Homo sapiens: one gene and its partner. The protein of the gene in region 2 interacts with the protein of the main gene of each other region in a pairwise test. Each region holds a gene or a part of one and is shown on either strand. Other genes may lie near its edges.

Region 1 (16,104 bases), on a different chromosome or scaffold from region 2:
AGCGTTCTTGATTGAACATATAGATGCCAAATAGGTTTCAAAAAATTCTACTTCCACTTTTTCATTCATCAACCTTAAAACAAGTCTGAGCTGTGAGCTTTTTTTTTTTTAATACTTTAAGTTCTAGGGTACATGTGCACAATGTGCAGGTTTGTCACATATGTATACATGTGCCGTGTTGGTGTGCTGCACCCATTAACTCGTCATTTACATTAGTTATATCTCCTGATGCTATCCCTCCCCCCTCCCGAGTGAGCCTCTTTTTGTTTTAATTCCCTTTCTGACTGGCACTACCCGAAAAGCTCTTTTGGTTTTCAGATTATGTATATAGCCCTAAAAACTTGCTAGAACAAAGTATCTTCGTATCTAGTGGGATTTGGTAAATTTTCCAGACCTAGAAAAGAAATTGGCCACAAGCTAAATGTAAGTAAAGTAGTAGAAAAAAATAGATCTAAGCAAAGGAAGTTATAATAATTAGCTTAATACCTCTTTTGAAAGTTTCCAGATTTCTTCAATGAGTGATGACAATTTCACCAATTTTAATCGACCAAAAAAATGTTAAATTGTGTTTAGTTATTGTAAAGTGATATAATGCATAATTTCCTTTCAGAGTGTGATATTTTAAAGTATGGAGTTTGAAAGGTATTTACTTAGAGTACTTGAGACTAGTTGAGGCAAAGATACCATCACAAGCTTTTGATATAAAAAAGAGAAGCTCCAAGGATGGAACTGAATTAGAGCCAAAGTTGGTGGGAAAAAGGAGAAAAGCTCTCTTTGAAACTGTTGCATGGGAAGGGAAACACCAAAGAAAAAGATTTGCTTCATAAAGAAATTGTTTTACACTGGTCATAATCCTGAAGTTAGAACTATCAATCACCCCAGATTAGTGAGTAAAATAATCACATTAACCCATAATTATAAATGTAATTTGTAAAACTCGGCCATATATAAGCCAAGTAGTAGTGAGAATATCAGGACACATTGGCGATACATTAGGAATGACAATACACATTATTTTTATCTTTGCTACTTAATTCTGCATTGCTTATTCATTTGTAAAAATAACTGGATTTATTATACTTCATATCACAAAAATGCCGACTTGGAGGTTTTACGTAGCTTTAATTTAGTGTTAAGATATTAGTTCTCAACATCAAGAAACTATGTGATTTTAAGTATTTCTGTAACTAACTTTCCAAGCAGTTAGGATGTAGAGTTCAGTTATTCTTTTTATTCTTTGATAGCAGTGTTGTTTTCTTTGATTACATATACATATATTTGATCTGTAAATATGTTTGTATGTATGTGTGTTACATAAATATGCATGTGACAATTAATTCCATTCTCCCTAGAATAAGGCTGGAACTAATTGACTGTAAGCAGACTATCCTGCTCATTATCTATTAGGTTATACTCAAAGTCTTTTAACCAGTGCATTAACATGTTTTAACCAAGTTTATTGGCTTTACCAATAAATTTACCAATTCATTTAACTGAAGTTTACACGTGTAGTCCTAAATATGCTAACTACTTTGTGTGAACTTTTTTTTTTTTTGAGACCGAGTCTCACTCTGTCACCCAGGCTGGAGGGCAGTGGCACAATCTCAGCTCACTGCAACCTCCACTTCCCAGGTTCAAGCAGTTCTCTTGCCTCAGCCTCCTGAGTAGCTAGGATTACAGGCGTGTGCCACCACGCCTGGCTAATTTTTTGTAGTTTTAGTAGATACAGGGTTTCACTATATTGGTCAGGCTGGTCTCGAACTACTGACCTCGTGATCTGCCCACCTCCACCTCCCAAAGTGCTGGGATTACAGGCGTGAGCCACTGCACCCGGCCATGTGTGAACTATTTTTATATTCTGAGAGGCAGTACAGCCTACGGGTCTCAATCCCAGACAGGCTGGGATTGAATCCCAGATCTACCCCTACTGACCTTGAGCAAATTACTTAATTTCTCTGTGCCTCAGTTTCCTCATCTGTAAATTGGAGATAATAGTGCCTACTTCACGTTATAAGGATTAAACTAATTAACATAATACATACCAGTGCCTGCCACTTGATAAACCTTTGTAATTATCTACAGAAGTCAGGAGGTTCCCCCAAAGGCTATGTGGAATGACAAAATCAGCTTTTATTTCAGAAGTCATCACTATGGAGATACCATTGGCAAGGCTTCAGCCAAATGCTGGAGAGATTAATTTCAGCAAGACTTGTGTTAAGGAAACCAGTAATCCAGGCAAAAAATGAAGAGACCTGAATTATATAGCAAATGGTGGTGGGATCGAAGCAAAAAATATTAAGGCAATATTAAATGTAATACACAGGCCTTGATCACTATTTGGCTGTGAGAGTTGAAGAATTCATAAAGGACTCCCAGGTTTCAGTCTAGGAGGACATTCTCTAAAACAGGATATAGAAAGAGTTCCAAAATCTCAAGTACCTGTATACATCCAAGAGGGGATGCCCAATAAGCAATCTCTTCACACTCCAGAAAAGCTGGATTGCAGAAATACCAAACTGAGTAAGTAGTACAGGGAACAGTTGAAGTGAAGGAAGTAGATACCATTGGATTTGCCTTTATCCTCTTTTTCAATGACCAGACAATCAAAGCCTACCTCAGACTAGAACACATCATCTAATGGAGTTCTGAGCATTAAAGGGAAATCATATTGAAGATTTCAACCTTGAAGTTAATTGTGAAGTTTGTTGCAGATGGCTAATGCTTCAAAGGTAGAAACTGTTTTTTCAGTGATTTGGGTGAAAACATGAACGTGAGTCCCTGGTGTGACATTTCCCATCACAGATTGCACAGCTGCCAATGATAGGCCCTTCCTTTGGCTCCTGGGGACTTAATTTCCCTAGGGAACTATTGTGGTTATTCAACTTTAAGACCTTGTAGGAAGAATCAGTTGTTTCTCTCAGGGGTCTTACTCAGAGCAAGCAATATGGAAGTAAATAGTCACTAAGGAGAAATGAGAAGCTTTTAGCAAAATGTACGAATAATTGTTTTTTCTTTTAAACTGGCCAAATCCTTACAAAAATTATAAATTAGATTAAGATAGCTACCCTGTTTTGGATCCTAATCATTATAATCTACATGAGAATGCATAATTCACACCAGTTTTGCTGTTCCCAACATAAAGAAAAAGGTGCATTTCACTATATGCTAATTTCTGCATGTAGTGGATGTACAAAAGATTGTTTCAGGCAGGAAACAATCTTTTCAGAAATGAGAATGAGAGTGTAGGCCCAGTTCTGCCAGTACCTACTGCTGTGATCTTGGCCAAGTCTTAAGGTGTATAATGCAGATAATATTTTTTTGCCCTACTGTCCCAGAGTTCTGTGATCAAAAGAAAGCATTTAATGAAACTGCTCTTTGAAAAATTATTTTTAAAAATTATTTAAAGGTTGTATTAAAAATACAACCGTCCCATCATTCAGGAATATTTTTTCACCTCAGAAAGCTCATTAGTTAAAATATTGTAAACATCAGTGTCTTGTTCCTAATAAAAATAATAGCCTACCACTTACTAAATGCCTAATATATGCTCTCTGTAAGGTGCTCAATGGACTTGCTTTAAATAATCACAACTACTTCAATATCTAAGTTACTAAGATGTTATCCTCTTTCTGGGAAAACTGAGGCTTAAAACGGTTAAGTGACTTGGCCAATGTCATGTGCCTGGTAAACTATAGTTTAGCCTTTAAATACAGTTCTCTCTGACCCTGAAGTCTACGTTGTTTCAACGATTCTGTTTTCAGATCCAAAACTGTATTCTGGAAAGAACTCCAGGTGGGGAAGACTAAACTCAAACCGTTATTTTTCAGTCTCGCCATCAGAGTTGAGCCAGAAAGCAGCCCAGTGAATCTGTGCTCTGCACAAATTTGATATGTTCTCTACAGTTCTCATTCCTGATTTAAAGTGGAAGACAGTAAACAACTGATTCAGGACTGCTAAGTCATATATACCTTTAAATATTTAGCAAAAGCAGATTTCAAAAGACACTTAAAATGTATTGCAAAATGTACAGCATTTATTCACATACAGACAAAAAGGCACAATTCTACTAAATAGTTCAACAAAAAAATACAGCTGTCCTCAACTAGTTTTATAAATACTTTCAAAAAGGGGGTAGAAATAAATACAGGATTGGGTCATGTAATATAAAATAGTCATCTCTACATATACTTTAATTTGATTTTTAACTCTTCATGCACCTTTTTTTTTTTTTCAATTTTAGCTGAATGGACACCAAGCTAGGCACATAGTGAAAAATCCTCTGTACAAGGTTACAAATGTAATGACAAGTTTGTCCATTTCAAAATAAGATTTGTACACAACACATAAAACCCTTCATTTAGATCTTGTGTTTATAACCTAACAAATGACATTCCAGGCAACTTTACAAAAGTTTAACTAGCCTACATTTTGACATAATACATTAATCATAATCAAAGATATTTCTTGGTCAGGATGCACAAGGAAAGATAAAGCTTAAAAAAAACAAATGCAAATGGTTCCATACTAATAGAACGCAAGTGGGTGTTTGGGCTGGTTGCTGCTTATGGCCACCTCATAGAGAGTTCCCAGCATGACATGAAACTAACTCACAAAGCTATCATTATACTGTCAGAGAAACCGTGCTCTATCCATTTGCATTTCGAAGCAGGAATAAAAAGTGTGGGCTTTTTATTTTTGTGTGTTTTGTTTTTGTGTGGGTTTTTTTTAATATTTTTTGTTTTGTTTTTGTTTTGTTTTTTTTGGTTCAGCATAACTTGGAACATTTGAAAGCTTTTCAACCTAAATGTGGGGAAAAAACAGGTAAGGCATTATTTTTGCACAAAACTAGCATTCCTAATAGTGCAAATGAATCTGATACCTCTTAAAATGGTGAGAGGTCATACACTTACTAGATTAATTTAGATTTTCTTTCTATGGCTTGACAAATTATCCCTCTATAAATTCTACTCTCACCCAGAGCTGTTGCTGTAATCAAAAGATAACTGTAGATAAAGTCCAACCTTCTCCTGTATCCAGCAAAAGGTTTTTGCTCATATGCAAAAAAAATCTAATTTTTAAATTATCCTACAAGTGAATATACAACTTGGATTCATAAGAACCTTCTATTATCTGCAGCAACAAGCTGATCTGGACAGCAGTCTTTCAAAATGAGCCCCATAACTCAAAAATAGTCAGTCAATCTAAAAACCTGCATCATTCTTCCCCCTCCCCTGAATTAGCTACTAAAATGTCCTTGAAAAGTTAAGACTTGGTTTGAAAATGTCGTACATACAATGGGGATGTATCAGATCTACTATTTGATCATCTGATAAAACTTGCATAGCAAGATGGGATTCAATAAGCCTTTTTTGTTGTTGACAATCATCTGGAAGACTTGAAAGTTAACTGCAGAACTCCTCAAAGCATTATTCATTAAGTATCATAATGTCCCTGCCATATGGAAACAGATGTATAAATGAATCAGGAATCTGAATACTGGTATTAACAAACTAAGGAGAATTTAGGGGAAGTCGGGCTTGTTCCAAAGGCCCATAATTCTGTATCTCATTGCTATTTAAACGTTCCTTCCTTAAGTTTGATTCACAACCACATTGAATTCCAAAGAAAATTAACAGGACCTAAACACTATCCACTGTCTTAATACATACGCACTATGGGGAGTGCAAAAACAAAACATTGTACTCAAATTTAATGCTAAATTTATTATTGCTGATAACTTAATAGTTATTGCCATTTGCAATTAGAAAGTCCAAGTTACAAATTAGAGTTTAGAACTCTGACTACAGAAAACCTATTCAAGGGTACACTTCAGTCTCTTTCCTGTATAACCTTGGTCAATAGTAAGAGCTTATCGCAACTTATTGCCTTTCTATTGTTTTTAAAATATAACCTATTTCGCTTTTTTCTCTTTTTTTCTTTTTTCTTTTTTTTTTCTTTTTTTCTTTTTTTTTTTTTTTTCCTTTTTCTTAAGGAATCCATTCATGTTGGAAGCCCAGATTCCCTAACATATGCACTAGTGGTTGGCTCTGGGAAGTAACAGTCACCAGAGTCTGGAAGTTCTTCGCTTGAACTTGAGTAGCCACTGTACTATTGGAAGCCAGATGGCCAGGTATTGGCAATGGCCAGGGAAATCCCAAGCTGGCTCAAGAGCCAGTGGTTAGGGAAGAAGAAGGTCAAGTGGACTGGTAAAAATTCTACTTCAACTGCCCTTATTCATAGATACAACTTTCCTAACAGTCTCACTCTCCACCAGTCCCATATCCACAACCCACTCACAGGCTTCAAGCAGCAGGACCTTGCCATATTACCCTAAATCTCCATATTGCAGCAGCTCTACCCTGTCCCCTCAGCTTCTTCAATAATGACCTTTTTTAAAATTCTCTTCCCTGACTGCTATATTTACACATAAATTTCTTAGTGTTACTGAAGCTTCAGAGCTGCTGCCTATATGCTATAATGCAACAAAAATAGCCTTGAGGGCCAAATATAAATATGATTTCAAGATCTACCACAGTCCTAGAAAATAAACTTTATGGGCTGTGAATGGTACCATGAGGGTTTCTCAAGAACCATATCTGGTTCCCTATATTCAGGTAACCATGAGTTTGTGCTTTGGGAAGAATGCAGAGGGCTATAAAAATTCATGAGGCTTATTTAAGCCTTGCCTTCTTTAAAACATTTCATTTTTATTTTAGTGTTCAGTTCGGGTTCTAGTCTTAGCAGTGTCTTATGGTTACAATCTACTCTTCTGTTTCCTCAACAAGTTGCAAATAACACAAACTTCTCACAAAAATGATTTAAAAATGACTCTGGAAAAAAATTAATCTGAATTGCAAGTAAATGTGTTTGTGTAGCTCAGGATTAATGGGTTTCTGCTTCTCCCCCACATCAGAGCTCTCCTCTAGCAAACCCAATGACGAGCCCAAAGGGCTTCCGCATCATCTCTGTTGCATCAAGAAGCCAAGATGCTTCTCCTGATAATGTCTGTCCTTCTGCTGATAGTGCTGCTGGTGTGTATACATTTCTTTTCTGATGCCTCACTCTCTGAGTCACTCATTTCCACATCGGGGACATACCCGTCATTCTCATTGTCGGATTTTAATTTGCTTTTTGCCCTTTCCTTGGCTGGAACTCGGCCTAAGCCCAAATATGGGTAGTCTGAGTGCTGGTGGCAGGCCCCATCGTGGGCCTCTCCCTGCTGCTGCCGTTCCCCCTTCTTTGGAATCCGGAATCCTCCCCAGTTTTTCACTGGGCTGGCAGGTGTTGTAGGCACTTTGACTGCAGTCTGATTATAGTTTACTTTGATTAGGGAGCCATTGCACTTGGGCACTATCTCCTTCCTTGTGCCAGGTGCTGACTGCCCCACTCCAGGGGAGGTGGCAGCTCTTGTGTTGTCCAGATGCCTCTGGGACACATCTGTGGACCTGAGAGGCTTGTGACTCTGTTTAAAAGATTTGTCCTTTAAGTCTCCTTTAATGAGATCACAATGAAAACGATTGTCTCTTCTTTTCCCATGGTCTGGCATCACCACACCATTTTTCTGTTGTGCTGATATGAGACGTGCTTCTGCAAAGGTCTTTTCTAAACCCAAAAAGCTCTCTGGGACCACCATCCCCTCCCTTCTACCACACAGGTCTGGCTGCTTCAGCAGGGTTTTGCCTTCACTTCCAGGGCTATTCTGCAAAGGATCTCGCTTATGGGGCTTTTTCAGCGAATGAACCAAGGAAGTACCCATTTGTTTTCTGAAGAATGCAGAATGCCACTTCAAGTCCTCTATCTTGGGAGCATCAGGGCCAACAGAAGGACTGTTAAACAAAAGCATGTTTTCCAGTGAGGAGGAGGAGCAGGAAGAAGGCACACCTATAAACATAAAACCACAAATAAAGAAAAATTACAGCAGAAGCAAATCCAAAAGAATAAAATTCTACACCCTTAGTGTGGCCCAATTGATGTGAACTCCCCACCCAACAACACAACACTTACACCACCAAGTTTGTACAAATTTGGTTTTTATAGTGAAGAGATGACCTGCCTTGAGAATCTCCATTCAATCTGCAGACTCAATATGCCACATTTTCTAAAACAGCTGAAGCTCACATAATTTTTCATAAAACTAGACCTCCTCCAAACAAAATAACTGATCTGATTTTCAGAGCGGACTCCATGCAGAACTCATCAGGTGGCTGATGGCTGCCTCTGCTCCCTCTACCTGGTTACAGAGCAGCACCTGCGCCGCGCTCCTCCACGGTCCAGTCTTCTGCCTCCCGTACGAGACTGAGAGGACCCAAAAAGCAGGGCTCGGGGCTTGTAAGTTTCTCTATGTGTCTGTACCCTCACAGGGCTATTACGAGGACAAGTACATGTAAACATGTGAATGAATAAAGGAAATGTGTGAAATAATTCTTGACACATAGTAAGCGTTCCAAAAATGTTCATTATTATTATGTGCAAAATACATTTGTGGGATTCAACTGAATTGTCATTCAACTTGAAGTAAGTTAAATTGATGTTTTTCGTATTTTTTGATGCAAATCACAGTGACTAAATTCCACAGCATGACCTAGTAAGAGTTCACATTTCACGAAATAATATTAACCCTCATCATTTGATAATGTACTCTGACATTTCCTATTATACTTTACTTGTTTTTAATACTGGTCATGACCCACTGAATTCATCTCACAACCCACTAATGAGTTGTTACCCCTAGCAGGTGAATTCATAACACATTAGTGTTTGTCATAAAGACCATGATTCTACAACAGCCTCAAGATCATCTAGAAAGAGCAGTTCTCATGTTTTCTGTCTCCCATAAGATATGAGCCACCAAGAAAACAAGGTTCAGCCCCCAGGTTATGAGACAGGAGGCCATATGAGAACCTAGTGCTCACCAGACACAGACACTGCAAGCAAATGAAACATAGCTAGCGACTCAGAACACAGAGCTGTCATGACCACAGGAGGTGTTTTACAACCTGCTGGTTTGGAAATGCTGCTTTCTCAAGAATCAATCATTAGAATCAACCTTCACATCACACTGCATATATTTCTTTTACTCAATCACCTGCCACAGGAAAAGAGAATGGTAAGAAGAGGCTAACATTTTCTGAACTCTGATTTCTATCTCCTTGACTGTAATCCATGTCTCTAAAGAGCCTCCAACTCATGACCCTCCCACCCCCCATAAGCACTGTTGCCACTGAGGACACTCTCAGCAAATGACCCTACCCACTCTCAGAATCACAGAGTTTAAACCATGGACCCTAAATGACATATAAATCATGACCATCTGCTCTACTTCAGGCAGGAGACAGCCTTTAGGCATGAATAAGAACACGACTGAAGCCTAGGACTGGAAAAAGAAAAAAAGCACCCTAAAGGGTTTCAACTGCATTACTCAACAGAATCCTACAGGAAGATAAATGTTTTCAACTGATCATACCTATGGTTCTTACATCAGAATGAAAGGAAGATTTGTTTTCCTTTTCTGAAATAGTAGGACTTCTGAATGCAGATCTACATTACAGCTCTGTTACCACAAAATAACTCCCAGACTTATTAAGAATATCATTCGCTCACCCAGTAAAAACCTCAGCCATGAAATGCAAAAACCTGCCTGCAATATCCATGAGAAATAACTCAAATGAAACCAGATGAAAATGCTCTTTACGGCTTATTTTTACAGGGAATCACTCATTACATAATGACCTAAGAGTTGCAGAAAGCCCTCCAATGGCACAACTCCACAGGCACAACTTGTATTAGTGATCCCAGCTCAGCATTTGCTGCTGTAGGCTCGGTGATCTGCACCAGACAGTCTTCCAAGGCAGTTAAACAGATCTCATTTATTTGTATTCAGGTAGGAATCATGAAGAGAGAGCTCACCTTAGGGAATCTGAATCGACCTACTTTTACATATGACACCCTACTTAGAAAATTTATTTTTAAAATCTTAACAATTAAACTGCAAGTTCCAGCTAATGATATACACTTGATTCACCTGGAAAATACTTAATCTTGGGAAGAAAATATCTAGGATATCAACAAGTTATTGCATTCAAACTATGTAACACTTCAAGAACATTATTTAAACCTCCCTAAACCTTTTTTTATTTCTTCAGATGACCGAGCTCCCTCTAGTCGCACATAATTGGTTAGATAAACCAGAATTTGGATTTCAACACAACAGGTTATAACAACTTCTTTGTTCTCTGTGCACCATAATAATCTAGATGGAGTGACAAAAAGCCACAAATGCACAAAAACAAGAGTGAATCAACTATGATTGCACAACGCAAGCACCAAGAATGGTGCAGCTAGAACTTTAAAGGGCAGTCCAAGGCAGGAGAGAGGCTGACTATCTTCCAATGAAGTCCAGTCTAAGACCTACCTGTTCCATGGGTCCCTAATTCTGCCTGATCCACACTCAGCAGCTCTGCTTCTCTGAAATCCTTATACTACCTACTTTTGGGGGCTTATGATCACAGAATATAGGGCTCAAATGCACTTAAGGGGTCTTGATTCTAAAACAAACTTTAAGATCAACGGAATCTCAGAGAGGTTAAACAACCTGCCCAACTTGATCTTTGCCCTTGATCTCCCAAGTAACTGATGTGTTGTCCAGAGTAGAGGAAGTATATACCCTAGTTTTCTTTTTCTGTTTGCCTAGCCCAGGGCAATATAAAATAGAAGACACTAAATAAATATTTGGTGCTCAATCTCAGAAATAGTCAACAATCCATCTACACAAAAAAAATCTACTGTGAACATTATCTAAAAATGGACTGTGTCTTAAGTACAGTCTTAACATATATTGACCATATTTACCATGTTACAGATAGAGCCCAAGGCTGAATATAAACCTGTTAGGTATCCCCATGATGTGTTTACCAAGTACTGTGTAATATATAAGTCACTGTTTCATTTTAGTCTCTCAATTCCAAGAGGTAGCTTGCGATATCTCCATTTTGCACATGAAGAAATTAGGGAGACTCAAAAGACTTTCATGTGTTTGCTCAGTAAGCAGAGAACACAGGATTCCACCCATATTTATAGAGGGCAAATTCATAGCTTTTTCCCTTAAACATGATGCCTCAAATTAAAGACTTCCTTTAAATATGAACGTCTATGCTTCTTAAATTCTTCTATAAGAAAATTAAGAAATGATTATTTCTTCCTCAACAGTGTTAAAGCTTACAAACCCCTGCCCTATACTTTGACCTACCAGGGCTTAATGCATACCTGAAACTCTTTCTTGCTCCAAAAGCTTAGTGTAAAGATTGAATATCTGTTCCTGGACTTTGCACACAGACCGTTTAATCTTTTCCCTGCGGGTCACCATGTAAGTGAGGTTCCGAACCTAGAATGTAGAGAATAAAGATTCTAAGTAAGCAATACAGTATAACAGTACTTTGGTGCTTTTTAAATTTCTTTACCTAAGAGAAATTACTCCTACTAGGGCCTTGACAGATACTTGAAATCAATAGGTACTTTAAACATTTTATCCAATCTCTGATCTCCTTTTGGGCAGATAAGAAGGATTCCACATATAGCCCTCAACATAGGCAGAAGCAACATCGAAGAGGGTTAGGGACCCACAGGAGTGGGAGGGACACCTAGAGAACTCCTACAAAAGTCCTGCCTCCTCCATCACACCTAACCCATCCCGGCACAGAGGCCATTGGTGTCCAAGTCAAAACTTGCAACCTCTTGCCAGTCGACTTTGCTAATTATTGCATCAATATCTTCTATTACTTGGATGGCCAATGGCTTTAAAGCAGTTCAGAAGCCACTTCTGCACTTTATCAACTATCTTCTGAGGCTGAACTGGGTAAACATGGGGCCAAGGGTCATCAAAGTGGAGCCCCCTGCACCAGGCCCACTGGAAGACCAAATGGTTACCAAGAATCCTAGTAAATGTCTTTGTCAACTGCACACTGAACTCACTGAAAGGCCTGGAGTTAGCAGGTAGCTTATGTGTTGCTATGAGGTGTGCGAATGCCTAGGAAATTTCCAGCTTTGCCAATGATTTGCTGGTTAGACATCTCCAGTCCAGTTCTCTGCATCATCACTTGAAAAACTGGTATTGCCCTCTCCCGATTCGCTTGTAACTGAAAAGACCCAGTGCTAAGAGTTGGCTCTACTTCCTATCTGATGTGTGACTGCTTTGGATCACATAACCCTAACCTATGCTCAGTAATCAACATTTAGATTTGTTCCCCACCTGTCATCACTCAATACACAAAACTTAAAGAATTAGTCTCTAAACTCCCCTAATCCTTCAGTCCTAAAATCTTCTATTGGTCAACCTGATTAGATTACACGGACCTGCAAACACAGATGTCAGACACAGCACACCAAATACACAATTAAACCCTTCTTCAGGAATATGTGGACAAGACCTCCTAAGTAATCTCAGTGGCAGGAGTGGTAGCATCTTTATCTGACCACATCTTTCCCATTAGCTCCTACAGGCATGCCTTCACTTTCCTAAAAATATCCCATTATGAGCAAACTCTTCCCCTGACACCTTTATAATTTTTTCCCCATAAACTCAATAAAGTAGTATCACCCTACTTTAAGTGGAAAAAGTCCAAAGGTCACCAACCTTTTCTTTTGGCAGTGAGGACAGCAACAAGCATCAACAAGCCTTGTGAAGACACAAAAGATTTTGCACTCTGGTGTAGAGCGTAAGTGTAGACTAAACCCTAATAATTCCAGCTGTGCTGAAGGCAGTCTCATTTGCAAGAGGACATGAAGCATTAAGAGAGACAGAACACAGGCTTTCACATTTGCATTATGGTAATATCTCCTGGCCTAAACAGGAAAATGCCAAGTCAGGCTTCTCCTGCCCCTAACAAATTCACTTTACGGATCTTCCCATCTTTTTTTCTCTAACAATCCCTTATGTCACTAACATTTCCTGTCTTATTTTAAATTTAAAGAATTGAGAATAAAAACACTCTCCCTGTCTCATAGTAAATATTACATGGATGTCAATCAGCCTAGTTAAGGTAGTTTCTTCCCTTCTCTGACAGCTGCACACCCTCAATCCAAGAAGCAGGTGTCCTTTATAGAAATTCTCACCAACTTGGGAATGGAAGTGGCTAACATCCTCCTCTCTTCGATATTGTTCCACCCAGGGGAAATTAAGAGTGAAGCTCAAGAACGAGGGGCCAGACCTAGATCCATAGCAGATTCAAAACTTCTAGGAAACAGAACCATTTTTACATTAACAAGGAATCTGACTCCTGGAAATAAAAAATGGAAACAAATCCTGACATCTTAGGAGCAGACAGGTTGCTCTCATATTCAAATCAGACATGTAATAGAAATACTTACATCTCTCTTACTTGAAATTATCCTTAAAAATGGAAAACGGGGAAGCCAGGGAATTTGAACTTTGTATATTATTCAAATTTAATTTTGGTAGCTTTGACCACACCATGGCTGCTAAATAGAAAAATCCCACTGCTATTCCTCATGATCTCTGATGGGAAATATCTAAATGTAAACCCAAAAAGCAAAGGGCATGGTTTTCAATCGGAACAAATCAGCCCTGACCAACTCCACTTTATAGTAGTGAGGACTCTAAACCTGACTTCCCTTATGCATAAAGTTCCCTATAGGACAACGCTCAGCAACCTCCACCTGCAGAGCTGGACTGATGCTCTCCCATCCTCAAAACACATCCAGCTTGTCCCTTCTTCCTGCACCCGTTCCACCAAGCTCCCTCCCCTGCTTTATCTTCTCCCAACTGCCTGCAAGGAGGTATCTTAAAAAACATTTAAACCATCTCCAGGTGCACTCTCACACCACCTTAAACCTGATCATCCCTTTCCCCTAAAGCAGTGTTCCCAAACAGAAACATGGGGTACCCACAAAACAGAACCACCCTTTGGAGGTGGGGCCCATGAATCTGCATTCCTAAGTTTCTGGGTCAGGGACAACACCCTGAGATACACTGCTCTAAGACATCTAAAAGTGGTTTCAGTGTTTTCTTGAATCCAAAACTGTTTGCAGCACTAAAGTTGAACGTGCCTTTTGTTCAGGGGACACTGTAGCCACTACCAGATTTTCAAAGGTGACCATTCCACTGAGTGACTACAGGACTGCCCCCAGGACTTGGCCACTTTCCATAACGCTAGCCAGAGTGCAGTGGTAGCACGTCTTTATCTGAATAAATACTCATTTGCTGAACTCACATTTACTGCATCTTTTAGGGGAAAGGAATGAGAGTGAAGTGGCAGCCTTGGGAATGACATGGCTACCCACCACATCAGCAACTGTGTCTTCTTAAAGTTGTGTGCTCCCAAGCCCTCCTGAAATCTACTCCTGTCACCTAACTTCCAGATCCAGAACTGGTACCCAGGTATGCAATGCCCCGAGGTGTGTGTCTGAAGGAAGAGCAGTCACCATAATTACTCAGTTGTCTGCATTTCTAATGATGGCTACTTATTTGTCAGTCTGAGAATGATCATATGCCTTGATTGTAGTCACAGGTATTAAATGATTTTTGAGGATCTGCTATAAACTGATATTGTGTGAATTAAACAGAAAACTAACTTACTTGAGAAAACAAGTTGGTAGTAATGATTGGTTTTTTATTGTCACCCCTGCCCTGATACACTTACTGTTTATAATTACAAATAACTGCAACTCTCTGGGCAAGGCAAAGATTTCAATTGTTTAATGCCTTCACCATCACAGGCATCATGGCAAATTTTGGGTAGCGTATTTTTTTTCATTACAATAAGCCCATTTTAAACTGAGTCTAAGGCTGGGTACAGTGGCGTAATCCCAACACTCTGGGAGGCCAAGACAGGTAGATCACTTGAGGTCAGGAGTTCAAGACCAACCTGACCAACATGGTGAAACCGTCTCTACTAAAAATACAAAAATTAGCCAGGCATGGTGGCGCACGCCTGTAATCCCAGCTACTCATGAGACCGAGGCAGGAGAATCACTTGAACCCGGGAGGCGGAGGCTGCAGTGAGCCGAGATCACGCCACTGCACTCCAGCCTGGGCAACAAAGTGAGACTCTGTCTTGAAAAAATAAAAATAAACTGAATACAAATTCTTTAAAGTTCCTTAGGCTTTTTAATAAAGTAAATGTAAGTAATGCCACACACATACACACACAAATCCTGATTTATTCCCTGTTTCTCATACATCGTTGGCATTGTTCTACTTAAACAGCGACAGTGATGACTCCAAAAAAAATGTTTAGAATTAGAAGTGCATGTTAATCTGAGTAACTTAAGTACAGAAAAGAGTTAGTACACCACAAGCATTTTCTACACTTTTATTTTGTGGTGATTGTGAGACAAACACAGTCCAAACAATAGACTTCTTGTCCTCCCCCTCCCAACAACTATCTGACTCCATAGCTCATGCACCCCAATTACAGCAGGTGTCGGGCTGGCATAAAGGCTTCTTACCAGGATTCCAGTTTATCCTTCTCAATCCTTTTCTCATCTCTAACAAAAATGCCACACATACATGTAGTTGTGAGAGGCAAAGTCTTCTTTACACTCACCACCAGGGGGCGTATGGGAGCACAAAAGCCTCACAAAACTGCTCCAGGATCCTGCCTCTTCCAGGGCCGGAATCCGCGGCCTTCCCAGGAATCCTAACCTGGTCTGGGAAGGGGCATCACAAATAAGCTGGCACTCAGTCGTGTATTAAAAGGATCTCTAATGCTCCCTTTAAGACTTTCACTTCTACGCCATCTCTAACAGGGCCATGCAGGTCTCCATGAGATCAGGCTTTTTTGGTCCAGTGTTTCCCAGGTCTTTCCCTACACTGTTTCAGGCCACTTGGGTACCTTTCAGTGCAGACTGCTTCAGGCCAGAAAACCTCACTCCCACCTCTTTCACACTAATGAATTTAATCGGTAGCCAGCAGCCAGGGGAGTTGATGTGGAAGATGCTCTAAGAAGCATCCCCAATTAGCAAGCCTCAGCCAGAAACTACCTACAGGGAGCAGGAGGCCCTAGCGGGAGGCAGCCCACGCCTCATTATTCCTGTAGCAGGAAGGGACGTCCAGACGGGACTCCAGAGGTGATGGAAAGTGGGGGAGGC
Region 2 (16,104 bases):
CATGAACATCAAAAACTCTGATATGGGCCATGCACAGTGGCTCATGTCTATAATCCCAGCACTTCAGGATTATTAAAGTCATTATAGACAAAAAAGAAAGTAAAGAGTCCACTTTAGTTCCCTTAGGACATCTCATTCTTACCATGTGCCCCATTCTTCCACATTTTACCCGAATCTCTTTACTTATGCAAGTTTTTGCCAGTTTTTGCAAACAGAAAACATGATGTGGTTCTCAAGCACACAAATAGAGATCTCAATGTCTCTATCACTGACAATATTTTTTTAAAAGCTGGCATGACATACTGCCACCTTTTATCATGGGTGGCATAGACTGTTCTTATTTGCACAGAGAAAGAATAGGTTTCTGACATCAGTTATTTCCTGCTCACTTCAGCGAGCGCCCACCTGCCTGCCCTGCCATGGGCCAAGAGCACACAGACCCAAGTGGGCGGCAGCCCACCCGCCACCATGCAGCTCCACGCCGCTGCTCCACCAGCTGCTAAGTGCACCGCCAGCACAGGCCCGCCCATGCAGCTGGCACAACTGGGCCTGGGCTGCAAAAGCCCAGGGAATACAAGGGCTCCCTACTTCCCAGTTTAATAAAAATATTACACTTAATGATGCTTGTCAATATCCTCGCCCCTACAAACCATGGCCTGTTTAAACCCCTTTCCATATGTTCTCTCCATATTTTCTCTGCTGCAAGCTACTCTCTCCTCTCTTATGCCTACAACTTCAACTTCCTCATTCATTTCCAGTCCATCTATTTACCAGATCCTATCAGCTTCTCCATGTTCTATTGTCAACAAACAATAGAACATCTTTTGTCTTTTACCTTCATCTTTTTTTTTAGACAGGGTTTTTGTATTTTTTTGATTTTTTTAGACAGGGTCTCACTCTGTGGCCCAGGCTGAGCGCAGTGGTGCAATCATGGCTCACTGCAGCCTTGACTTCCAGGGCTCAAGTGATTCTCCCACCTCAGCCTCCTGAGTAACTGGAACTATAGGTGTGCACCACCATGCCCAGCTAATTTTTTATTTTTGTGTAGAGACAGGGTTTCCCTATGTTGCCCAGGCTGGTCTCGAACTCCTGAGCTCAAGTGATCCTCCTGCCCCTGCCTCCCAAATCACTGGGATTACAGGTGTGAGCCATCATACTCAGCTTACCTTATCTTTAATACACCTCCACCTCATCTTTTGTTTCCAATGTCTCATTTCTTAACCCACAAATATCTTTCAGCTAAATTTATATCAGCATATTACACATGAATGGTTATGATTTTGCAAGTATTATTTATTTTATAAACAAACTGTTGGGAGGCCAAGGAGGGAAGATCGCTTGAGACCAGAAGTTTAAGACCAGCCTGGGCAACATAGGAAGACCACATCTCTTTAAAAAAAAAAAATTAAAATTAAAATTAAAAAATTAAAAAATATATATATACATATATATAGAAAAGAAAAGCCAGGTATGGTGGTACACATATGTAATCCCAACTACTCAGAAGGCTGAGGCAGGAGAATTGCTTGAGCCCAGGAGGCAAGGCTGCAGTGAGCCATGACTGGACCACTGCACTCCAGCCTGGGTAACAGAGAAGACCCTGTCTGAAAAATTAAAAAATAATAATAATAAGAGAACTGGTAAATGTAACAAATCTAGCTATTTTTCTCAATTCCCGTGGCTCAATGATTCCAATCACTATCAACTCTTGCCCAATTATTGTGACCACCTGTCTCATCTTACCTGGCTTTTCCTGGACAATCTGCTTCTCTCATGACTAGCTATATCATTCTCCTACTCCTTCAGCTTGATAAAAAAGGACTTGCTGCTTCTTGCTCCCCAGGACCACTCCCTGTTATCCTATCACTAAAAAATCGCTTGGGAGTCACATTACTCACTGAAACCATTCCTTCTGCAACATCTACCAACCTCCAGAACACCCTCCTATTTCCCCTACCCAATAACTTCAATTCTGCTTGCTCCCAAATTCAGCCATTATTCTCAATGACTTCAACAAAGATGCTCAAGAACTTTCTACACCCTGACCTTCAAAAACTCCTAAGACCTTCATCTGCACTTCAGCTAGCCACAAAGAAACAAAACAGAGCCATCAACTGAAAAGTGCTAGGCCGGGTGTGGTGGCTCACGTCTGTAATCCCAACACTTTAGGAGGCCAAAGCAGGTGGATCACTTGAGGTCAGGAGTTCGACACCAGCCCTGGCCAACATGGTGAAACCCTGTCTCCTTTAAAAATACAGAAAATTAGCCGGACATGGCGGCTCATGCCTTAATCCCAGCTACTTGGGTGGTTGAGGCAGGAGAATCACTTGAACCTGGGAGGCAGAGGCTGCAGTGAGCCAAGATTATGCCACTGTACTGCAGCCTGGGTGACAGAGCGAGACCCTGTCTCAAAAAAAAAAAAATAGTTACAATCCACTAGGATTGTAACTTCAGAGACCACCCCCCTTTTCTTTATCCACAACTACTTTATGTTCTAGTTGTAGACCTGCTCTTTACCTCCACTTGGCTTTATTGTCTCCCTATATAATTTAAACCTGTCCAACAGCCATTTTAACACTGTCCTCTCCAGAATATCATGACCTTCCATTATTCTCACTATGCATCTCCCCAGTGATAGACAATCCTCACCATCTGTTTTCTCCATGCCCACGCACTGGGTGTTAAGCACCACCAGAAAGCTATGAAATCTTCCACAACAGATTTATTCTAAATACAACTCTCCGTCTCATTGACTAATCCAAATCATTTTCATATTTAAATCCCTAATTCCAACAAATACTCGAACCCTTCTATAAAATTCCCTCAAATCACACCTTCTCCACCTGTAATCAAATCCTCTTCACAGCTTCTAAAATGCTGTAACTTCATCCATCTGTTACTTCTTGCCTCCAGTTTTAGAATAAGAGTTGTTGTTCTTCCTTCTCAAACTAAACTTCTTTAATCAATTCCTGTATTTATTGCTTCCATATTCTTCCAACCCACTCAGTAAACCACCATGCACCCTGGTCTCTGAACTGCTCTCTTGAAGACCACAAAAAAAAACAAAAACTAAAAAATCTATGTTCCAAATCATATGATCCCCCACCAAAGTCCTTACCCTTTTTTTGTTTTTGTTTTTGTTTTTTTTTTGAGACGGGCTCTTACTCTGTCACCCAGGCTGGAGTGCAGTGGTTCAATACCAGCTCACTGCAACCTCCGCCTCCCAAGCTCAAGTGATCCTCCCACCTCAGCCCCCCAAGTAGCTGGGACTACAAGTGCGCGCCACCACACCCAGCAAAGTTTGTTATCTTTGGTAGAGATGAGGTTTCATCATGTTGCCCAGCATGGTCTCGAACTCCTGAGCTCAAGCAATATGCCCACCTCAGCCTCCCGAACTGCTGAAATAACAGGTATGAGCTACCATGCTTGGCCAGTCCTTACCCTCTTTTTGGCAATGACACTTAAGCTACCCACCTTGCTTTATGTCACTGTAATGATTCTACTCTGACCTCTCTGGTTGTTTCTTCTATCTGAAATCACTGCTGCTCTTCCTAGCCCAAATTGTGGATATTTTCCCAAGGTCTGACCTGGAGCCTCCTATAATTCTCAGCCACTGAGGGTCTCATCCCTCACCACTGTTTCTACATTTTCATTCTTCATATGGCTGTCTTCCCCCAGCTACCCAAAATAATCTTTAAACCATCACCCTCTCCTACAATCCAATTTACTCCTGAGGAATTAGAATATATAATGATTTCTTTTTAACTAGAATTGGAATGCATAATGATTTCTTTTTAACTAGATTCTTCAACTATTACTTCAATTAACACTTCAATTATCAGTCCAAATAATTTCATAACCGTCAGTGCCCTAACTAAATCCAAAATTAGTAGCTATATAATTATCAACTCTATGTATGTATTCCCAACTCTATATTGGACTTCTTTTCTTAGCTCCAATCCAGTACTGATGCCTCACACACAGGTCAATGTGTCTTAAAACCCCAAAACAGTTCTGCTAAGTGATCTAATAATTTCTACTAATGGCACCATCAATCTCAGTCACCCAGATTAAAAGCCCTAGAGCTTTTCTTCAGTTTTCTTTTTCTCTACTGTTTCCCAAAAGCCTATCTGCCATCAAACCTTCCCATTCTTTCTTTGAGGTATTTCTTATAGCTATCCCTCTCCTTTTATTCCCACTATGACTACCCAACTTATACCCTCAATACTTCACACTTTTTTTTTTTTTTTTTGAGACAGGGTCTCCCTCTGTCACCCAGGCTGGAGTGTAGATTTCAGCTCACTGCAACCTCTGCCTTCTGGGTTCAAGTCATTCTCCTGCCTCAGCCTCCCGTGCACCTGGAACTACAGGCATGTGCCACCATGCCCCGCTAATTTTTTTATCTTTGCAGAGACAAGGTTTCGCCATGTTGCCTAGGCTGGTCTCAAACTCCTGAGCTCAAGCAATCTGCCTGCCTCAGCCTCCCAAAATGCTGAGATTACAGGCATAAGCCACTGTGTCCAGCCTACTTCACACTTTTTCCTAACTTTGTCTCCCAGTCACCAGGTTCTCTTCATTACAAAAAGAGAAAGGTCACCAGATTAGTATTCTTAAATAGTCTCTTATTTACCCGTTCAAAAATCAACACTGGTTCTCCACTGCATACTGACTTAAGTTAAAACTCCTCAGACTTCAGCCAGGTATGGTGGCTCATGCCTGTAATCCCAGCACTCTGGGAGACCGAGGTGGGCAGATCACTTGAGGTGAGGAGTTTGAGAAAAGCCTGGCCAATATGGCAAAACCCTGTCTCTACTAAAAATGCAAAAATTAGCTGGGCGTGGTGTCACATGCCTGTAATCCTGGCTACTAGGGCGGCTAAGGTAGGAGAATAGCTTGAACCCAGAAGGCGGAGGTTGCAGTGAGCAGACATCGCACCACTCCAGCCTGGGTGAGTGAGACTCTGCCTGAAAAAAACAAACAGAACACCTCAGACTTCAAAAAACTTGAAACCATCCAATAATCATGGAATAGATAAATACACTGTGGTATATTCATATGATAGAATACCACACAGCAATGAAAAAAGAATAAACAGCCAAACATAACATGGATAAAACTCACAGACATGCTCCTTGAGAAAAAGGAACTAGACACAGAAATTGGGTTCCACTTATACAAAATTCAAAAACACACAACACTACTCTGTTATGACAAAAGTCAGAATAATAGTTATTTTTGGTTGGATGAGATATCAGCTTGGAAATGGCACATGAGGCATCCTTCTGGAAGTCGGAAATGTCCTGTATATTGAACTGGGTGGTGGCTACATAAATTTATACCTAAGTGCCCTTAAGATTGGAGCACTTTACTGTATTTATCTCAATAAATACATTTTCAAAATCCAAGTTAGCCTGAATTTTTGAGATAGTCTGCCTACTTCCCAGCTTTATTTCCCTCCATTCCTCAACATGAACCCTAAATTATAGCTAATCTAGACCACCAACCCCTAAACATGTCCTGAACTTTGCTCACTGTCACTCATATCACTCCTTCTTCTAGGAAAGCCAACCCTCACCTTCTTGCCTATTATCTTATTTATCCTTCAAGGTCTAAGCTTCGCACCAATTTCTCCACAAAGCCAACCTTGAACAAACCTGCCACAGTACTTGTGTCATAGATGGATGTGTATGTTTTGTCCCTGGATAAATTCCTGAAGAACACGGACTGTGTCATATATAAACATGTATCCTTCACACTCCCTACCATAGAACCTTGCACATGGTAAATATAAAAATATACCCTGAATGAATAAATTCTGGCAGTCCATTGCATACAGTAAATATAAAAATATACCCTGAACGAATAAATTCTGGCAGTCCATCAAAGTATCCTCCAGTCTAACCCTCCTTCTCACATCCACCCATCACTGCTTCTACTCACAATTCATCCCACAGTCCACGTATTTAGTTTCTATCATTCAACAAATAATTGAGCACCTACTACATGAAAGAAACTAAAATTATACTCTAATGTACTGCACTAAACTACCCAAAAATATAATCCAATTTCAGCTGCTGCCATTTGAATATTTCTACAACTCTAAATTTCCAGTCAGCCAGGCATGGTGGCTCACACCTGTAATCCCAACACTTTGGGAAGCTGAGGGAGGGGATCACTGGAGCCCAAGAGTTTGAGATCAGCCCAGGCAACATGGTGAGACCACATCTCTACAAAAAAAATTGAAAATTAGCCAGGCGTGGTGGTACATGCCTGTGGTCCCAGGTACTCGGAAGGCTGAGGCAAGAGGATCACTTGAATCCACGAGGTAGAGGCTGCAGTGAGCTGCTGCGTTCACACAACTGCATTCCAGCCTGGGCAACAGATCAAGAGCCTCACGTTCGTTCATTCAATAATAAATAAATAAATAGCATATTTCTAGTCATCTTCCCCTCTTCCCTACCTCCAACTGCATTCCACTTCCATATTCTAATCCTACTGCTATCAAACTAATTCAAGCCCTTCTTAATATCTCCAGTAGCCACCTAACTGGTCTTTTTGTTTTCTAACTGGTCTTTTCACATACAATCTTACTCTACCACCACATTACCCGCAATCTACCCAGTAAGGTATAGCTATTGCCAGCTATCTAATATACGGTCCTTGGCTCAATTCTCTACTCAGAAAAGTTCAACAGCTATACACTAATGATTTCTGCTAACATACTTTAATCATATGTTAACATACTTTAATTCTCACATCCTCACCATAACCCTTGCCAGGAAAGTATGATTATCAATTTTATGAGAAAATGGAAACTCAGAAAGGAAATAATTCTCCATAATCATACAGTGGGTAAACAGAAGAGCCAAGACTAAAACCCAGCTTCTGTTTGCTTACCAAGCACAACACTACATCATATCAAATACAAACTACTTAGCTTAGCTTTCAAGGCCATCCATTTTCAACCCAACCCCAACTGACTCTCCTACCTTGTATTATACCTTATTCATGAACTCTCTGCGTTCCAAACTATAGATTGTGATTAATTATTTTGTCGGTCATGAAATCAGTTTAATGAGTGACAATCAGCTTTTTTTTCTTCCCCCTTGGCCAGCTTTTTTTCTTTTTAGTCAAACAAAATAGATAACATCCAACTGCACCTGCCACTGTTAAGGACAGTTACTGTATTATGAAACTTCTTGTTTTACCCACACACAAACATTCATACATGCATATATTAGATAGAAGTGTGACATGTATTTCTTACTATAGGTCATAGTTTAAAAATTAAAACCTAACTCACCATTCCCCACATCTCCTGGGCTTCTCACCTCCAAGCCTTTGCTTACGCTAATCTCTCAGGCAGGAATGCTCTCTTTCAGTAATCTTTGCCAATCAAAATCCTATCAATCCAAAACTTAAAAAAAAAAATCTTATCAATCCCTTCAAAGACTAGCTAAAATTCCACTTTTATGCCTTTAAAGTTCTGTCTCAGGTTTTCTCCTAATCAAATGCATTTTCTGCCTTTTAAATTCAGTAATATTTGGTATATTTGTGACTCACAGATATATTTGTGATTATAGTACAGGTATTTGTGCACAAGTCCAGCTGCCCTACCACAATATAAATCCCAAAGGTTTTATTCCTGACAGCAAAGCATTATATGCTTTTGCATATAACAAATGTGCATTATCTGTTAAATAAAGCTCATCCCATCATTTTCTGAAACCTTGTTATAAATCAACATAATTTAATAACTTCTACTATATTCCAAACTTCTGTTGACTCTTATCCTTCAAATAGCCTTACCATCTTCCTCCTCAAAACAGCCGTCTCAAATAATCCTCTTTACCCTCCATCTTCTCATGCTTTCCTCCAAAGATAGCCTGTCATATTTCAGTAATCTTTTCCCTCCTTCAGAATCATGCTTTCTATCAGATACCACCTTTCCTTCCCCATCTGCTTATCTTCTACCTTATTCCTAGTTCTCTAACACCGATACACATTGATCTATATTCTTTAAACAGATTTTTCTTTTCTTCATCATCTCTTTAACCAGATTTATTGAATTATTTCAATTCATTGCTAGTGCATATAGTTTGGCAGCCCTGTTAAGTCCTTTGTAGAAAAAGGCAGGTTATGAATAAATGAAAAAGAAACATAAAACATATAGACAATTCAGATCTCCTAAATTATCTCAAATATCTCATTCATTCATTCATTCATTCATTCAACAAGCTCGTGTCTACTGGACACATGCCCTCAGTTCTGTCTATTCTATTCCGTAATTCAGAAAGCAGCTTTGAGAAAAGCATGCAGGAAAATGCCAGGATAACAGGGCCAAGTTGACTCATGCTCTTCTCTCATGAAGGCCAAGTAATTTGTGGGGTACAGGCTCATAAAAGAACAACTAAAAGTTACACTATACGAAGACGGAAAACAGACCCCATAGTTGTTTCAGGGGGCTCAACATCTACCAACAAATGTGAATCTGAAAGGAACAAACCAGTAGGAGTAGCTAAAATGAAACAGGCAGAAAGCATTCAGACAAAAATAGATCCAGACTCTAGGTTCACTTTAGGGCTGCAAGAGGAATTTGGAGTCATTTAGTTCCTCTCTGAGATCCCTAAGGAATCTTTTCAAATATAAGTATGGTTCACTTAAATCATTTCACCAAACCTTAGCCAATGTTCATTTCTCCATTCCCTGAACTCCTACAGCACTTACTGTCTGTAAAACTCATTTGTGAACTTAAACTATCTTGCTCAAGGTAATAAAATTATTAACAAACATACTCAGAATTTATTTCATCTGAGAAAAATGAGTTTTTAAAAAATTTATTTACACATTCAAATCAGTATGGTCCTCTTTAAAATAAGTTACTTTGGAAGGCTACCACTTACTCATTTATTCACTCCATCCATCCAACCATCTGATGCACTCAACCAACATTTATGTAGTGCCTAACTAACTACATGTGAAGCTATCACCCCTGTTCAAAATATTTCCAACTTCCTCCTTGGGAGTGTTTTCAAAATCAGCTAATAAGTCAACCAAGAAAATTATTCCCGTTTCTGTGATTAACTGGATTTAAGGCAAAACTATTTTTCATTCACTCTATTTGATATTGACTAACCTTCAGCATTTCTAAAAATCAAAATTTCAAAGTAAAAAGATCTGTCATCAATAAGACCATTCAGAATAAGATTATACCATGTATTATTTAAAAGTGTGCCTCTTGGCCGGGTGTGATGACTCATGCCTGAAATCACAGCACTTTGGGAGGCCAAGGTGAGTGGATCACTTGAGGCCAGGAGTTCGACACCAGCCTGGCCAACACGGCGAAACCCCATCTCTACTAAAAAATACAAAAAATTGCCAGAAGTGGTGGTGCACGCCTGTAGTCCCAGCCACTCTGAGACTGAGGCAGGAGAATCGCTTGAACCTGGGAGGCAGAGGTTGCAGTGAGCCAAGATGGCGCCACTGCACTCCAGCCTGGGTGACAGAGAGAGGCTCCATCTCAAAAAACAAACAAACAAACAAAAGTGTGCCTCTTGGGCTCGGCGCAGTGGCTCACACCTGTAATCCCAGCACTTTGAGAGGCTAAGGCAGGCAGATCACCTGAGGCCAGGAGTTCGAGACCAGCCTGGCCAACATGGTGAAACCGTGTCTCTACTTAAAATACAAAAATTAGCTGGGTGTGCTGGTGTGTGCCTCTAGTCCCAGCTACTTGGTAGGCTGAGGCACGAGAATCAGTTGAACTCAGGAGGCGGAGGTTGCAGTGAGCCAAGATCACACCACCGGACTCCAGCCTGAGTGACAGAGTGAGATCCTGCCTCAAAAAAAAAAAAAAAAAAAAAAAAAGCCATAGAAGCCTAGAAAGAACATTCTAGGGTCATTTTAATACATTTCCAGATTTCCCACACTAAAACTCTCCAGAAGACAAAGAATACTGCAACCTCAAAAAAAAAAAAAAAAAAAAAAAGTGTGCCTCTTGAAGGGATTATGAACTCCTAGCAAACAGGGACCATGTTTCGCTCACCTTTATAGACCCCTTCCCCCAACAGCACACACTAGATACTCAATAAATAGGTAAATTCTATAGAATTGTACTCAGAAGTTAATTCAGAAAAGGTGTTCTAAAAACATTCTGAACACTGCTACTGAAAATGACCACCGAAATATAAAAGTTCTTATCTGGAGATATAATTTTGATATTTGTTTTTAAAAATCAACTTTCTGAAATCTTATACCATTACTGAATTATTTCACAACTGTCTTTCTCTCTCAAAAGAATGTAAATACTACTTTGGGATGCCAAGGTGGGAGGATCACCTGAGGTCAGGAGTTCAAGACCAGCCTGGCCAGAATGGTGAAACCCCACCTCTACTAAAAATACAAAAATTAGCTGAGCATGGTGGCACGCTCCTGTAATCCCAGCTACTTGGGAGGCTGAGGCAGGAGAATTGTTTGAACCCAGGAGGCGGAGTTTGAACCCAGCAGTGAGCTGAGATCGCACCACTGCTCCCCAGCCTGGGCAACAGAGCAAGACCCCGTCTCAAAAAAAAAAAAATTGTAAATACTACAAATTCCTTGAGAGAAGAAGCTTATCTGTTATTTTTACTATCCTAAAAAAGAATTAAATCAGACAGTCCTAAAACAGTCATTTATGCCTGAGGTAAAAAAAAAAAATCTAAATTAAACCAGCACCCTGCTACAGACCAGATTTTACTCCAGATTAAACTAGCTTCAAATTTAGAAGAGACCCCTTGGTCCCACCTCTTCCAAGTTGTTACAGAACCACTGCAATTCCATTCTAATCCAGTCTGTCTTCTTCCCTTAAATCTAAAGGTCCTCTCCAGATATCCCTTTTGTCCTTCACGCTGTCAAACACACACACACACAGTTTTGCCTACAATACCCCCAAAGTACTCAGCAATTTCATACAATCCCACTATTATCACTAACAGTGAACACTACTTTCTATCAGTCATTCAACAGGTATTTATTAAGCACTTAAGAATCAACCTGCTGTTAGTTTCCCTAGAGACTACAGGAAGTCTCTGCTCTAGAACAGGTTACAATGTACCATTTGCAAAACAAAGAGAATAATTGTCACAAATACAAAATTTAGCAATACATAAACTACATGTGAATACTGTTACTACTGAAAGTAAGGAAGACTCTCAAGAGTTGCCATTACTTAGACTCCCAAAAAGAAGTGGAGTAATTATCTTTCTAATCTCCCAACATCCACCATAGTGATTTGCACCTCATACACAAATTTCAAAAACATTAATATTTTATGACTCTAACCTAACAGAGGAGATTGGGCCCAGTATAGTTTTTTCCTACCACATTCCCAACATATTAGTGACTTAAACATGCTAATTTCCTTAAAAATGACAAAAATTTTAGTCTCATCACCATAAGGTAAACCTCCTTCACATTAACTATATCCAAATCCCCCTCAAAATTCTTTACCTTTTCTTCAGCCTCCTCAAAATGTATCACCACCTCCATCAAACCCTGTTCCTCATCCTCATCCTCCTCTTACCACATTTCCCATCTCTCCCTACTACATCCCCCCAAAAAACACATGTATATGCCAATCCATTACCTCCTAAAAATAAAAACATAAGAATTGTGGCCGGGCACGGTGGCTCACGCCTGTAATCCTAGCACTTTGGGAGGCTGAGGCAAGCAGACCACTTGAGCCCAAGAGTGCAAGACCAGCCTGGGCAACATGACGAAACCCCGTCTCTATAAAAAATACAAAAAAAGTTAGCTGGGAGTGGTGGCTCATGCCTGTATTCCCGGCTACTTGTGGGGCTGAGGTGAGAGGATTGCTTGAGCCCAGGAGGTGGAGGCTGCAGTGAGCTGGGAACATGCGCACTGCACTTCAGCCTGGGTGACAAAGTGAGACCCTGTTTCAAAAAAAAAAAAAAAAGGGGGGGGGGGGGGCAGGGCGAAGTGGCTCACGCCTGTAATCCCAGCATTTTGGGAAGCCGAAGCGGACAGATCATGAGGTCAGGAGATCGAGACCATCTACAGTGAAACCCTGTCTCTACTAAAAACACAAAAAAATTAGCCAGGTGTGGTAGCGGGCACCTGTAATCTCAGCTACTCAGGAGGCTGAGGCAGGAGAATTGCTTGAACCCAGGAGGCAGAGGTTGCAGTGAGCCGAGATCGTGCCACTGCACTTCAGCCTGAGCGACAAAGCTAGACTCCGTCCCAAAAAAAAAAAAAAAAAAGAATTGCCACAGAACCCTAGAAAAAACATTCAAGGGTCATTTTAATGCATTTCCAGATTTCCCACACTAAAACTCTCCAGAAGACTGTCAAAGAATACTGCAATCAGGCCGGGCGCGGAGACTCATGACTGTAATCCCAGCATTTTGGGAGACGGAGGCGGGTAGATCACGAGGTCAGGAGATCGAGATCATCCTGGCTAACACGGTGAAACCCCGTCTCTACTAAAAATACAGAAAATTAGCCGGGCGTGGTGGTGGGAGCCTGTAGTCCCAGCTACTCGGGAGGCTGAGGCAGGAGAATGGCGTGAACCTGGGAGGCAGAGCTTGCAGTGAGCCGAGATCACACCACTGCACTCTAGCCTGGGTGACAGAGCGAGACTCCGTCTCAAAAAAAAAAAAAAAAAAATACTGCAATCTGGTAACTAATTCCAAGATGAACAACTATCATTGTCAAGCAACTCCTCTTCATCTCTAACAAGCAAATCTTACACTGCAAAGATGGTTCCTACAACATGGTCTTTCTGATAGGTCCATCCAAACTTCTCTTTATCATCTCATCCAGCATTTTTAGTCTAATTGTCAATGTTCTTTCTACTTCAGGAAAGCCATACCTAGGCTAAATCCCTAAAATACAATGGGGAAATCAAGAGATACAGCCTAAGATTGTTGGATTCTAAAATCAAGGTTTAAGCATATTATTTAAAAATATAAACACACTGAATAAAATAACTAAAATAAATATCAAAGGTCAGAAAGGAGGAGAAAGGGGATAATGTCAATGACACATTCATAAACATCTTCTGACTCCGATAATGTCATTTTGATAAATCAAGAAATAATATTATATGCCCATTACTTGGAGACATGGAAAAAAGCATGGTAAGAAATACAAAATTAATGCTTAAAAGTAGCAGCCTCAGTAAAGTGGAACTGCAATAGGCAGGTGAGACAGGGGCTGCTGTTTTTCATTGTAAGTTCCCTCAGAACAATTTTATAATAAAAGAGTAGAGGCCGAGCACAGTGGCTCACGCCTGTAATCCCAGCACTTTGGAGGCCAAGGCGGGTGGATCACTTGAGGTCAGGAGTTCGAGACCAGCCTCACCAACACGGAGAAACTCCATCTCTACTAAAAATACAAAATTAGCCAGGGGTGGCGGCAGGCACCTTTAGTCCCAGCTACTTGGGAGGTTGAGGCAGGAGAATTGCTTGAACCCGGGAGGTGGAGGTTGCAGTGGGCCGAGATCACGCCATTGCACTCCAGTCTGGGCAACAAGAGTGAAACTCCGTCTCAAAAAAATAAATAAATAAAAATTTTTTTAAAAAGGGTAGAAAGACAATAATGACATATTTAAGTGCATTCTGCTTACAAAAATTAAAAGAACAGATAATATACAGTGCTGGTGAGGGAAAAGGGAAGGAAGACTAGCCTTCTCATGCCATGATGACAATAAAATTGAGTACAGCATACTATGTTTAAAAAAGACCTGGCCAGGCATGGTGGTTCACACCTGTAATCCCAGCACTTTGAGAGGCCAAGGCGGGCGGATCACTTGAGGCCAGGAGTTCGACACCAGCCTGGCATGGTGGGGTTTCACATAGTGATGGGGTTTCACCATGTTGGCGAGGCTGATCTTAAACTCCTGACCTCAGGTGATCCGCTCGCCTCGGCCTCCCAAAGTGCTGGGATTACAGGTGTGAGCCACCGCGCCCAGCTGTATATAGTTTTTTCTTAATAAAAGGTGAATAATATCCGGGTAGTTTTTAAGAGTATGGTTCTAGCCCAGAGTTCCCTCTTGGAAATCTGGTCTGGTGTGAGCTCAGCAAATCCAGAGAGAGCTTGGTTCATTTCCTGACATAGAGATGCTAATCCTCCCTCCAACCTGGCTCTAGAGTCGTCCAGTCTCCTAGGTTCCCCTAGACCTTCTGATAACTAGTCCTGACCTCCTTGCAACCTAAAACCAAAACAGATATTCTAGCTCCTCCATTCTGCAGGCCCACACTTTGCTGGCTGATACGTTTTCTTCAATGCCATCATGCCTGAATGAGAGTATTCTCTCACTGGAGAACTCCCTCACAGTTCACTTCAGGAACTGTGAATGGCAGAAGATCTCCCACCAGCCACAGATTTATGGAACCAATCCAGCCAACTAATTTGAGCTACAAATGAAGTATCTAAAGAAGAGCCAGCAAGCATGTCTTCCCCCCGACCATTAATTATAATCTTGTGTACTGCAATCCAGGCTGAATAATACGGCACCAATTCTCCTGGACCAGATAAACTGGGCAGTGAAGAAAACCACCAAGTCAATTAATTTCCATTCCAGCGTTTGCCAGGATAGTATTTACCCAACCTCGGGTAAGTGTTAATACTTCAAATTTTCTAAAATCGAAGCTCCATAGCCTAAGGAATCCCCACAGGCCAGACCCTTTCTCAAGGTCTGCTTCAGAGGTTCTCATACTCATTGGTGCACGTCTAAAATGTCACAGACCAAACTACAGACTAAAATCTAATTCTCAGTGACCCCAACCACGGCCCAGACCCACACTTACCAGATGTCATCTACTGAACAGCCCACACAGGTTCGGAACTAGGCCATCCCGGCCCATCTGGAATAACTCTTCAGTACTTAGGCCAATATTTATTAATTATACTACATCTGTCTATTCTATTATGCATTCCCTGCATCTTCTCTACTATTTAGCACTCCCTCTTGCTTCAAACGCGATCCTTTCTATTCACGGGAACTCCTATCTCCCTTCTTTCCTTCCCTGAGAAACGCTTCAGTTCTTTCCATAATGAAATACCTAACGTATCTGCACAATGAACACCCCCCAGAATCCTCAAGACTCCTCCACAGCCACCTCCCCGCATTCCTCCACCTCTCCGGCATCTTTCCTCCGGCCCCTCGCCCTGTTCGCACTCCCACTACGTTTCCTGCAAGCATTCCCTTTTCTCCAACCCCTGCCCTTCCCTTCTCCCAAAGAGCACACTCCGGCAGCAACAGTGACTGAGGCCTGCGGTGCATAAAGCACTGCACCAGGCACGGTGGACAGAGCCCTGGTGTCTCCCTAGCCTTTTCACACCCACACCCAGCACCCTCCGGCCTCCCCGTGCAAACATCCCACCTCCTCCCCTACCTCTGACACCCGCCTCCAGCCTCGGAGGCCGCCTTCTCGCCTCCGCCACCCCCGTCATTATCCCTCCTCAACCCCCCAACCCACCCTCCGCGCCCTGCTTCCTCACGTCCCCCAGCCAGCCCCAGCGTTTCCCTCGGCCTCGGCTGGCCCCCTGGCCACCCCCAGCCTCGCCACGGCTCGCTCCCCCCGGGGTCAGGCCGTTACCGCCGCGCGCTCCCCCCGCGCGCCGCCCCCTCCCCCTCCCCCGCCCTCCCCCGGGCCCGGGCCTGCCAGGCCGAGCGCTTTACCGCGGGCGGGCGCCGAGTCGCGCGGTCACCGACTGCAGGCGGCGGCAGCTCCAACCTTTCTAGGGGCCTTGAGAGGAGGGGAAGGGGGGAGGGGGGAGAACTTTTGCTGTGGCAGCTTCGGCAACAGCTCCCACCCCTGCGCCTTTCTCCTCTTCCTCCCCCTCCTCCTCCTCCTCCTCTTCCTCCTTCTCTTCCTCCTCCCAGAGCAGTAGAGACGCAGACATGCCGCAGCTAGAGCGCCGCCGCGGTCGCCGCCACTGCCGGCCCGGTGCATTGTGGGAAGCCCCGCACACGGGAAGCGCTCCGCGGCGCCCGCCCTCGTCTGGCGCAGAGACCTGGCTGGAAAGACACAGCGTGGCTTCGATTCCGGCGCCTGCGTGTCACCAGCCCAGGGTGGCCGTGGAAGCTGGACCCGAGCCGCAGGC

What was found.
Region 1: the proteins of ZNF148 (region 2) and JADE1 interact in binary tests that used the Homo sapiens proteins (3 or more experiments, as listed by UniProt).

What each region holds. Positions count from the first base shown.
Region 1 is NC_000004.12:128,863,132-128,879,235, reverse strand, and holds the end of JADE1 (protein Jade-1), read right to left. Parts: exon of another isoform or gene 14,604-16,104; intron 11,381-14,603; coding exon 11,263-11,380; intron 7,882-11,262; coding exon 6,974-7,881; 3' UTR 4,012-6,973; downstream 1-4,011.
Region 2 is NC_000003.12:125,359,423-125,375,526, forward strand, and holds the start of ZNF148 (zinc finger protein 148), read right to left. Parts: upstream 15,904-16,104; 5' UTR 15,680-15,903; intron 15,288-15,679; exon of another isoform or gene 14,805-15,287; intron 1-14,804. UniProt on the Homo sapiens protein: Involved in transcriptional regulation. Represses the transcription of a number of genes including gastrin, stromelysin and enolase. Binds to the G-rich box in the enhancer region of these genes.